Linked DNA regions of Homo sapiens: region 2 is linked to region 1. The links come from fine-mapping of genetic effects on gene expression. A gene starts in region 1. The other region holds a variant in brackets. All regions are shown on one strand. Distances are between the middles of the regions.

Region 1 (4,000 bases):
AAGAAATAAATGTTTTTCTTTTTTAGCTTAAAAGGCCTGGCAGAGCTTAACAGTGCCTTGCAGTTTAATTCATCATAAATTTTAAAAACACAAAAACACCGCATCTGAAGCAAAATATTTATCACGTGATATACGTTTACCGTTAATTCAGAACACTAAATCCAACAACGCAATGACCAACTTTTTTTCTGCGTATCGATTTACCCTCAAATTTGCGGACAGTAAAAACAGACAACTAGTACTTACATTTTTGTTGAATTTGGTGAAAGAATGGTGCATATAAAACCTGTGCATATAAACAATCGCAGTGTTTATTGTAAGCTGAGAGCTGGAACGTAATATTTAGGAAATATCTGACAAAAGCAAGATCTCATTCCCAGAACAATTTTGATGGAAAATTCCCAGGTTCTTTTCCAATACCTCCCATTCAAATCCAAACCCCAAACTGGAAATAAAGAAATAAATGCCCGCGGGGGGTGGGGCGGCAGGAAGAGAATAGGCTTGACGCCAAATAAATGGGAATAAGAACTGCTGATCTTTTCACTCTAACAGCGCTGAGGGCCCTGGAACTATTTATCAATGGCTACGACTAACTAAACTCAAAATGAAACAGTTGAAACGCGCGCGCACACACCCATACAAAACCACGCCAAGAACATAAAGAACTCCAGTACGCTCCCAAGGTAGAAGAGAGCCGCCATCAAGCCGGCGACGAGAGCCGGGAAAGGCTGCGGCAAACACTTAGGCCTTTCAGCATCGCTAACCCTCCTACCTCTCAAACCCTTCGGGGTCAGGGACAAGTCCAGGGAGCCGCCCCTTTTCTGCAATAATCCCTAAAATTCCTCTTTCGCCTGAGCCACACTCCCAACCCCCGCCGCCACCACCACGCGCTGCCCCAAACAGATTACACAACGCAGGCTCCTGGCCCGCATTCCTGGGGTCCTATCTCCTCCTCCCTTCCTCTGCTGACCCCTCGCGACTGCCCGAGCCGGAACATTACTTCCCTGACCGCGGCGCCGAGGCCCAGCGAAGGCCGAGGCCGGCGGCGCCATGTTCGCGGGGCACCAGGCCCGGCGACCGGGCAAGGGAAACAGGGCGTGAGCGGCGGCGAACAGAAAAGGATACACATTGAGACGCTGTCCCATCTCCTGGATGAGGTTGGCCGCCTGCTGGCGGCACGAGAGCTCTTTATCCGCCTCCACTCCGCAGCGGCGGCTCGGCGTGTTCTCCAGCTGTTCCCGAGTAAAGAACCAGCGAGAAGAAGCTCCACGGCCCGACGCCATGACACTTCCTCCTCCGCCCGCTCCTTCATTCACCCCCCGCCCCTCCTGGCTCGCGGACTCCCCGCCAAGGCGCGCGACCCCGCCCCACTCCGCTCGCCGTAGACCACGCACCACCCTTTTTCACCACCGCCTCCGCCCTTGCGCATGCGCGGGGCCCGCTCTACCGACTCGCCCTAGTCTTTTGCTTTCTTTTTCTGCCCTCGGCCTCGCTCTTGCGCACGGGACCACAATGCTCCGCGCCGCTTGTCATTGGGAGGCGCCGAAGGTGGAGAGGTCGGCTCGGAAGGAAAAGGTCGGCGCAGCGCATGCCGGGTCTAGGGTTGGCGGGGCGAAGGGGTGGGGAGGGAAGGGGCGGGGAGGGGAGGGGAGGGGAAAGTGGGAGAGGGTGGACTCTGGCCGGTGTGAAGAGAGGCGGTCGGGCGGCTGCGCTGTGGGGGCCTGGGCGTGTACTTCGGAGGCCCGTCGGGCGCTTCCTTTAGACGGGAGGTCTAGCGGCCCTTTAAAAAGAGAAAAATAACCTTCACTGTCGCAGCCTCACGCCACTACTTCCATTTTCCTTTTGGGCGGGTCCGCGCAGTCTCGTAGGCGTGCGACTCCGGCCTCCGCCACCAACAGTCTCCGCCTAGCGCGCGGCTCTGGCGTTGAGCTGGCGGGGAAAGAGTGCACAGGAAGTCACGCTCCATGGCTGTCCGCACCTGAGTGCTTTTTTCACCCTACATTATCTTGTTTAAATCCCAGACCACTTGGTTTATTTTTATTTTTTCAAATTACTTGGCAAACGCTATCCAACTAGCAACGAGAAATTGAATTTCTAAATGAGGTGTTGAATCTAGACGGGGCGTGTTTTCAGGCTGCGCTGTGGTTTCTGCGAGACAAGGTTGGGGAGAATCAGATAGTGCAGGAGGAACTGAGTTAAAATTTTATCTTTAGGATTTGATGTGGGAACATCCCACATACCTGTTGATTAACTCCTGTATTTCTTCCTGTAAGAAAATGCCACTGAGCTTCACTCGGAGTTTGTGTTGTGAATAGGGTTTCTAAGTTTAAAGTCTTAACTATTTGGAGGCCGGGCACGGTGGCTCACGCCTGTAATCTCAGCACTTGGGGAGGTCCAGTGGGCCGATCACTTGAGGTCAGGAGTTCGAGGGCAAGGGCAACATGGCGATACCCCGTCTCTACCAAAAATACAAAAATTAGCCAGGTTTGGTGGCGCGCCTGTAGTCCCAGCTACTCCCGAGGCTGAAGTGGGAGGATGGCTTGAGCCCAGGAGGTGGAGGCTGCGGTGAGCTAGATCTCGCTGCTGCACCCCAGCTTGGGCGATAGTGCAAGACCTTGTCTCGAAAATAAAAAATAAAGTAATATCTATTTGCCAAAGACCATGGAGGCAAGTGATTGTTATGGGGCTCCCACGCTCAGCATACTGCATTGCACAAGAATATTGATTATAGTAGGCAGTTTTTGTAACAGTTGCTATTTCATACTCACTTCCCTTGCTTTACGTTTTATGTTGCTTACAATTTCTGGAATAGATTGATTTAAAGCAACATTTTAAAAGTGCAAACCCTTGGCCAGGTGCAGTGTTTCCCGGCTGTAATCCCAGCACTTTGGGAGGCCAAAGTGTTCTAGACCAGCCTGGGCAACATAATGAGACCCCACCTCTACAAAAGTTTTTTAAAAAATTAGCTGGATGTGGTGGCGTCTGTAGTCCTAGCTCCTTGGGAGTATCGCTTCAACCTGAGAGGTGAGGTTGCACCCCAGCCTGGGTGACAGAGTGAGATCCTGTCACACACACACACAAATAAAAGAAGTGCCCATCCTCAACATCCATTCATGATAAAAACTCAGCAAACTGGGAATAAAGGAGAACTTCCTCAACTTGATAAAGAGCATCTACAAAAATTCTGCAGCTAACAATAGATTGTTTCTGTTGTGAGAAACTACATTCTTTCCACCTAAAGTCTGACACAAGGCAAGCATGTCCCCTCTCACCAGTCTTTTCAACGTGGTACTGGGTGTTCTAGCTAACAAGAAAAGTAAATTAAAAGTATATACATATTGGGAAGGAAGACATAAAACTTCTTCTGTAAAATTTTAGGATATAAGGTTGAATACAAAAGTCAGTTTTCCTATACACCAGCAATGAACAATTGGAATTTATAATTTAAAAATGCCATTTACAATAGTACCGTCTCCCAAAGTAATACAGGTTGAGTATCACGTATCTGAAATGCTTGAGACCAGATGTGTTTTGGATTTCAGGTTTTTTTAGGTTTTGAAATATTTGAATTATAAACTTAGCCATTGAGCATCCTAATCCAAAAATTCTAAATCTGAAATGCGCCAATGAACATTTCCTTTGAATGTCATGTGGGGGCTTGAAGTTTTGGGTTTTGGAGTGTTTCTGATTCTCAGATTTAGGGATACTCAACCTGTACTTAGATATGGATCTAGGCAGGGCGCAGTGGTTCACACCTATACTCCCAGCACTTTGGGAGGCCAAGGTGGGAGATTGCTTGAGGCCAGGAGTTCAATACCAGCCTGGCCAACATGGGGAAACCTTGTCTCTACTAAAAATACAAAAATTAGCTGGGTGCGGTAGTGCATGCCTGTAATCCCAGCTTCTTGGGAGGCTGGGACACGAGAATTGCTTGGACCCAGGAGGCAGAGGTTGCAGTGAGCCGAGATCACTCCACTGCACTCCAGCCTGGGTGATAGAG
Region 2 (4,521 bases), 71 kb after region 1:
TTATGAAATTTCTTGATATTAAAACAAAATGAAATGAAGGCCATTCAAATCCACTATTGAAGGACAAACTGAAGACAGGGACATGGAGTAAGAAAGAAAAAAAAAAATCACAGCTGCCTGTCCCTGCAGCTGGGGCTTCCTAGCTGCTTTGCCGTCAGCTCCATTTATATCATGTTTTCCCTCGGAGAGACTTGAGGCCAGCTTAGAGCATCAGATCCTGGTCTAGGAACTAGCATTTTGAATGGGAGAAGTGAAGCACAGTGTTTGAATTGGCACTTAGTGGACACACAAGAAGGTGAGGATGGGCTGCCTCAGAGACAGTGATGTTTAAAATTCTTGAAAACCTAAGCAGTACCATTCAGGACATAGGCATGGGCAAAGACTTCATGACTAAAACACCGGAAGCAATGGCAACAAAAGCCAAAATTGACAAATGCTAAAGAGCTTCTGCATAGCAAAATAAACTATCATCAGAGTGAACAGCAACCCACAGAATGGGAGGAAGCTTTTGCAATCTATCCATCTGACAAAGGGCTAATATCCAGAATCTATAAGGAACTTAAACAAATTTACAAGAAAAAAAACAACCCCATCAAAAAGTGGGCGAAGGATATGAACAGACACTTCTCAAAAGAAGACATTTATGTGCCCAACAAACATGCAAAAAAGCTCATCATCACTGGTCATTAGAGAAATGCAAATCAAAACCACAATGAGATACCATCTCATGCCAGTTAGAATGGCTATCATTAAAAAGTCAGGAAACAACAGATGCTGGAGAGGATGTGGAGAAATAGGAATGCTTTTATACTGTTGGTGGGGGTGTAAGTTAGTTCAACCATTGTAGAAGACAGTGTGGCGATTCCTCAAGGATCTAGAACCAGAAATACCATTTGACCCAGCAATCTCATCACTGGGTATATACCCAAAGGATTATAAATCATTCTACTATAAAGACACATGCACACGTATGTTTACTGCAGCACTATTCACAATAGCAAAGACTTGGAACCAACCCAAATGCCCATCGATGATAGACTGGATAAAGAAAATGTGGCTGGCTGGGTGCAATGGCTCACGCCTGTAATCCCAGCACTTTGGAAGGCCAAGGCGAGCAGATCACCTGAGGTTGGGAGTTCAAGACCTGCCTGACCAACATGGAGAAACCCTGTCTCTACTAAAAATACAAAATTAGCTGGGCATGGTGGCACATGCCTGTAATTCCAGCTACTCAGGAGCCTGAGGCAGGAGAATCACTTGAACCCGGGAGGCAGAGGTTGCGGTGAGCCAGGATTGTGCCATTGCACTCCAGCCTGTGTGACAAGAGCGAAACTCCATCTCAAAAAAAAAAAAAGAAAAAGAAGAAAAGAAAATGTGGCATATATATACCATGGAATACTATACAGCCATAAAAAAGGATGAGTTCATGTCCTTTGCAGGGACATGGATGAAGCTGGAAACCATCATTCCCAGCAACTAACACAGGAACAGAAAACCAAACACTGCATGTTCTCACTCATAAGTGGGAGTTGAACAATGAGAACACATGGACACAGGGAGGGAAACATCACACACCATGGCCTGTCGGGGGATGGGGGTCTAGGGGACGGATAGCATTAGGAGAAATACCTAATGTAGATGACGAGTTGATGGGTGCAGTGAACCACCATGGCACTTGTATACCTATGTAACAAATCTGCACATTCTGCACATGGATCCCAGAACTTAAAGTATATATATCTATCTCTATCTCTATCTATATCTATCTATCTATCTATCTATCTATCTATCTATCTATCTATCTATCTATCT[G/A]TATCCCCAAAAAACTCTTTAGTGGTTCCCCACTGTCTTCAGGATCAAGTTCAAAGACCTAAGCTCATTTTGGGGCCTAAACCCCTAAATCCTTCATGGCCCTGTCTGATGAGGTTTCTGGCTTCCTCTCCATCTTTTTGCCTCTTTTTCACTCTCCCTACTCTTGTCTGCCTCTATGTGTTCTCCACAGAGCAACCAAAGTGGTCTTTTAAAGCCATTAAGACCCTCCGAAGAATTTGCATTGTTTTGAGAATGCAATCCAGACTCTTTAGCGTGCCCTGCAAGTCCCCATGTGGCTGGGCCTCTGCCTACCTTGCCAGCCCATTTCCTACTATCTCCCCCTTTCACTGCATTTCAGCCACATTGCCCTCCTTTCTGTTCCTTGAACACATCAACTCTTTACCACTTGGTGGCCTTTGCAACTGCTGTTCCCCCACTTGGAAAAGTGTTCCCTTCTCATCCTCGAAGCCTTTGCCAGGTCACAGACCAGCCAGCCTCTTGCTCTCTATCACATCGCTGCTTTATATTCCATTCTCTGAATTGATCATGTTGACTTGTGACCCCTGGAATCTGAGCACTATCAGAGCAGGGACTATGTCTATCTTGTTCACCAGCATATTCTCAGTGTCTAGGTTGGTGGGCCTGACACAAAACAAGTTTCAATAAAAAGTAGTGAGTCAGTGAATGAATGTGTGAGAGCCAGTGGTTCTCAAACTTGAATGTGCTACTTTGGGAGGCTGAAGTGGGAGGACCACTTGAGGCCAGGAGTTCGAGGTCAGCCTGGACAACATAGTGAGACCCCCTGTCTAAAAAATAAAATAAAATAATGATCTGGGCATGGTGGTGTGTACCTGTAGTCTCAGCTACTTGGGAAGCTGAGGTGGGAGGATCACTTAAACCTGAGAGTTGGAGGCTGCAAGTGAGCTGTGATTGCATCACTGCACTCCAGCTGGGCAATAGAGCGAGACTTTGTCCTTAAAAAAATTAATAATTAAAAAACCCTTGACAGTGCATCAGAATCACCAGGAGGCTTGTTAAAACAGGTTGCTTGCCCTACCTCTAGAGTTCTGATTTGGTAGGACTGGGGTAGGGCCTGAAAATTTGCATTTCTCCCAAGTTCCCAGGTGATGGTGAAACTGGTTGTGGGACCACAGTTTGAGAAATGCTGGTAGCTGAGTGCTTGAATTCTGAGCTTACATATGTTTAATATTTCATGCCTTTGTTCCCTTTCTTCTTTTCCTAGAACATGGTTTCCTTATTCCCTGGGCAAGCCTCCCTGCCTGCTTTAAGATGTGGGATGGGCATCATTTCCTCCAGAAGGCCTTCTCTGATCCTTGGTGCCCAAATCTCTGCCCCTTAGCACCTGATGTAAAGGGAGTCCTAACCTTTCCATGCTGCATTGGGTTAACTCTGCACATTAACTAGATTTCCAGACCACAAGTCCTCCAGAGCCTGCATTAGTCATGTCTGCATGCCAGCTGGAAGCTCAAGAATATTCCCTCTGAACTCGGAGAGGACATATGATGCCTCTGAAAATGAAGTCAGACCCATGCCCTGGGCAGATCTAGACTCCCAGCTCACTCTTGGGGCTCGTTATTTCTAGAGGGCTTTGCCCACAGCCTTCTTCTTTTTGCTTTTTCCTCTTACCAAACTCAACCCTTAATAACACTGTCTTCTCCCCTTTGTCTCCAGTGTTCAATTTTTCCAGCTTGTGCTCAAACCTAACTGTCCCATTTATTTGGTCAGCTTTAATATACTGTAATAACCTGTAGAGAGCACTAGGTCACTTCCTCCAGGCAGAGCAATAAATGCTAAAACTGGTTGGTGGGGGTGGGGAGAGGGGAGAGAGAGAGAGAGAGAGAGAGAGAGAGAGAGAGAGAGAGAGAGACCTTTTAATGTGTTCTCAAATTCCAATTTTATCTTCCTAAATACTACTCTTTGAAGTCACCTCCATTTTTCCCAATTATTCTGAGAAATCTCAGTGCTGTTCCCTTGTCTACAACAAAGCTAATACATGGGCAGAAGAGTGGGGTTCCCTGGAGGCCCAGCCTGCAGTGAGGTATCCCATGGCTCAGCTCTCCCTGAGTGCTACTGATGTTCATACTTTGGAAGAAACTCACCTTGCTGTGGTGTTGGAGCTGCACCCAGCCTCCGTAGCCAAACCTCTGCAGTGGGGAGAAGCACAGTTAGAGTCAAAGAGCAAAGACCAGGCTGCAATCAAGGGGCATGCTAAGTGCAGAAGATCCTGAGCTCCACCTTTCAAGCATTGCCTTCCCATTTCCCCCATACCCATGTATCGCCTATTTAGTATTTACAATTAAATTCACTTACATTTTTCCTTCAATATATTTATACAAGAAGAAAATACTGTTATCTCAGCAGTGCTGGTTTTATCTTTTCCCCTAATGCAGCTTGAATTTTTAAAATAAAGATTAACATGAAAAAATATTGTTCATGTGCCACCTAAAATCATTTCACAGGCTACCAGGAGTACATAGCTCCTAAGGACCACTCTTTAGGAAATACACTGCTTTTCAAACTGTGGGTTGCAATCCATGAGTAGATTGTGATATCAGTTTAGTGGATAGGGACTCAAACATTTTAAAACAGGAAATCATGTATGTAGCAGATGCTGTTGGTGTCCCGCTCATATCCCTTTGCTTTCACACTTCTGTGCATGCCAGCCCACCTCCATCAGCCAGCGCCTGC

Alleles and levels. Positions count from the first base shown, and alleles are read on the strand shown. Sizes are in standard deviations (SD) of each study's normalised expression.
For the expression in neural progenitor cells of the gene that starts at base 1,532 in region 1, allele G in region 2 goes with a higher level than allele A (large effect, 0.82 SD a copy in Aygun 2021).

Evidence for each region. PIP is the estimated chance that this variant, and not a neighbour inherited with it, causes the effect. A credible set is the group of variants that fine-mapping cannot tell apart.
Region 2: its variant is the best candidate, but not a certain one, in a credible set for the expression of CCNT2-AS1 in neural progenitor cells (Aygun 2021, PIP 0.58).

The regions. Positions count from the first base shown.
Region 1 is chr2:134,916,138-134,920,137 of GRCh38, reverse strand. It overlaps CCNT2-AS1 (CCNT2 antisense RNA 1), which reads left to right and starts at 1,532. Exons shown (of 5, transcript NR_036549.1): 1 at 1,532-1,575. CCNT2 (cyclin T2) reads right to left here and starts at 1,316. Exons shown (of 9, transcript NM_058241.3): 1 at 1,126-1,316; 2 at 247-328. The coding sequence starts at 1,283. RefSeq lists enhancers at 717-806, 1,017-1,286, 1,437-1,596, 1,674-2,347, 2,357-2,406 and a silencer at 1,607-1,676.
Region 2 is chr2:134,844,689-134,849,209 of GRCh38, reverse strand. ACMSD (aminocarboxymuconate semialdehyde decarboxylase) reads right to left here. Exons shown (of 10, transcript NM_138326.3): 2 at 3,933-3,977. Among named protein-coding and RNA genes, the nearest start is that of ACMSD, 8.3 kb to the right of the region's middle. The variant G/A (reference allele first, on the strand shown) is at 1,813.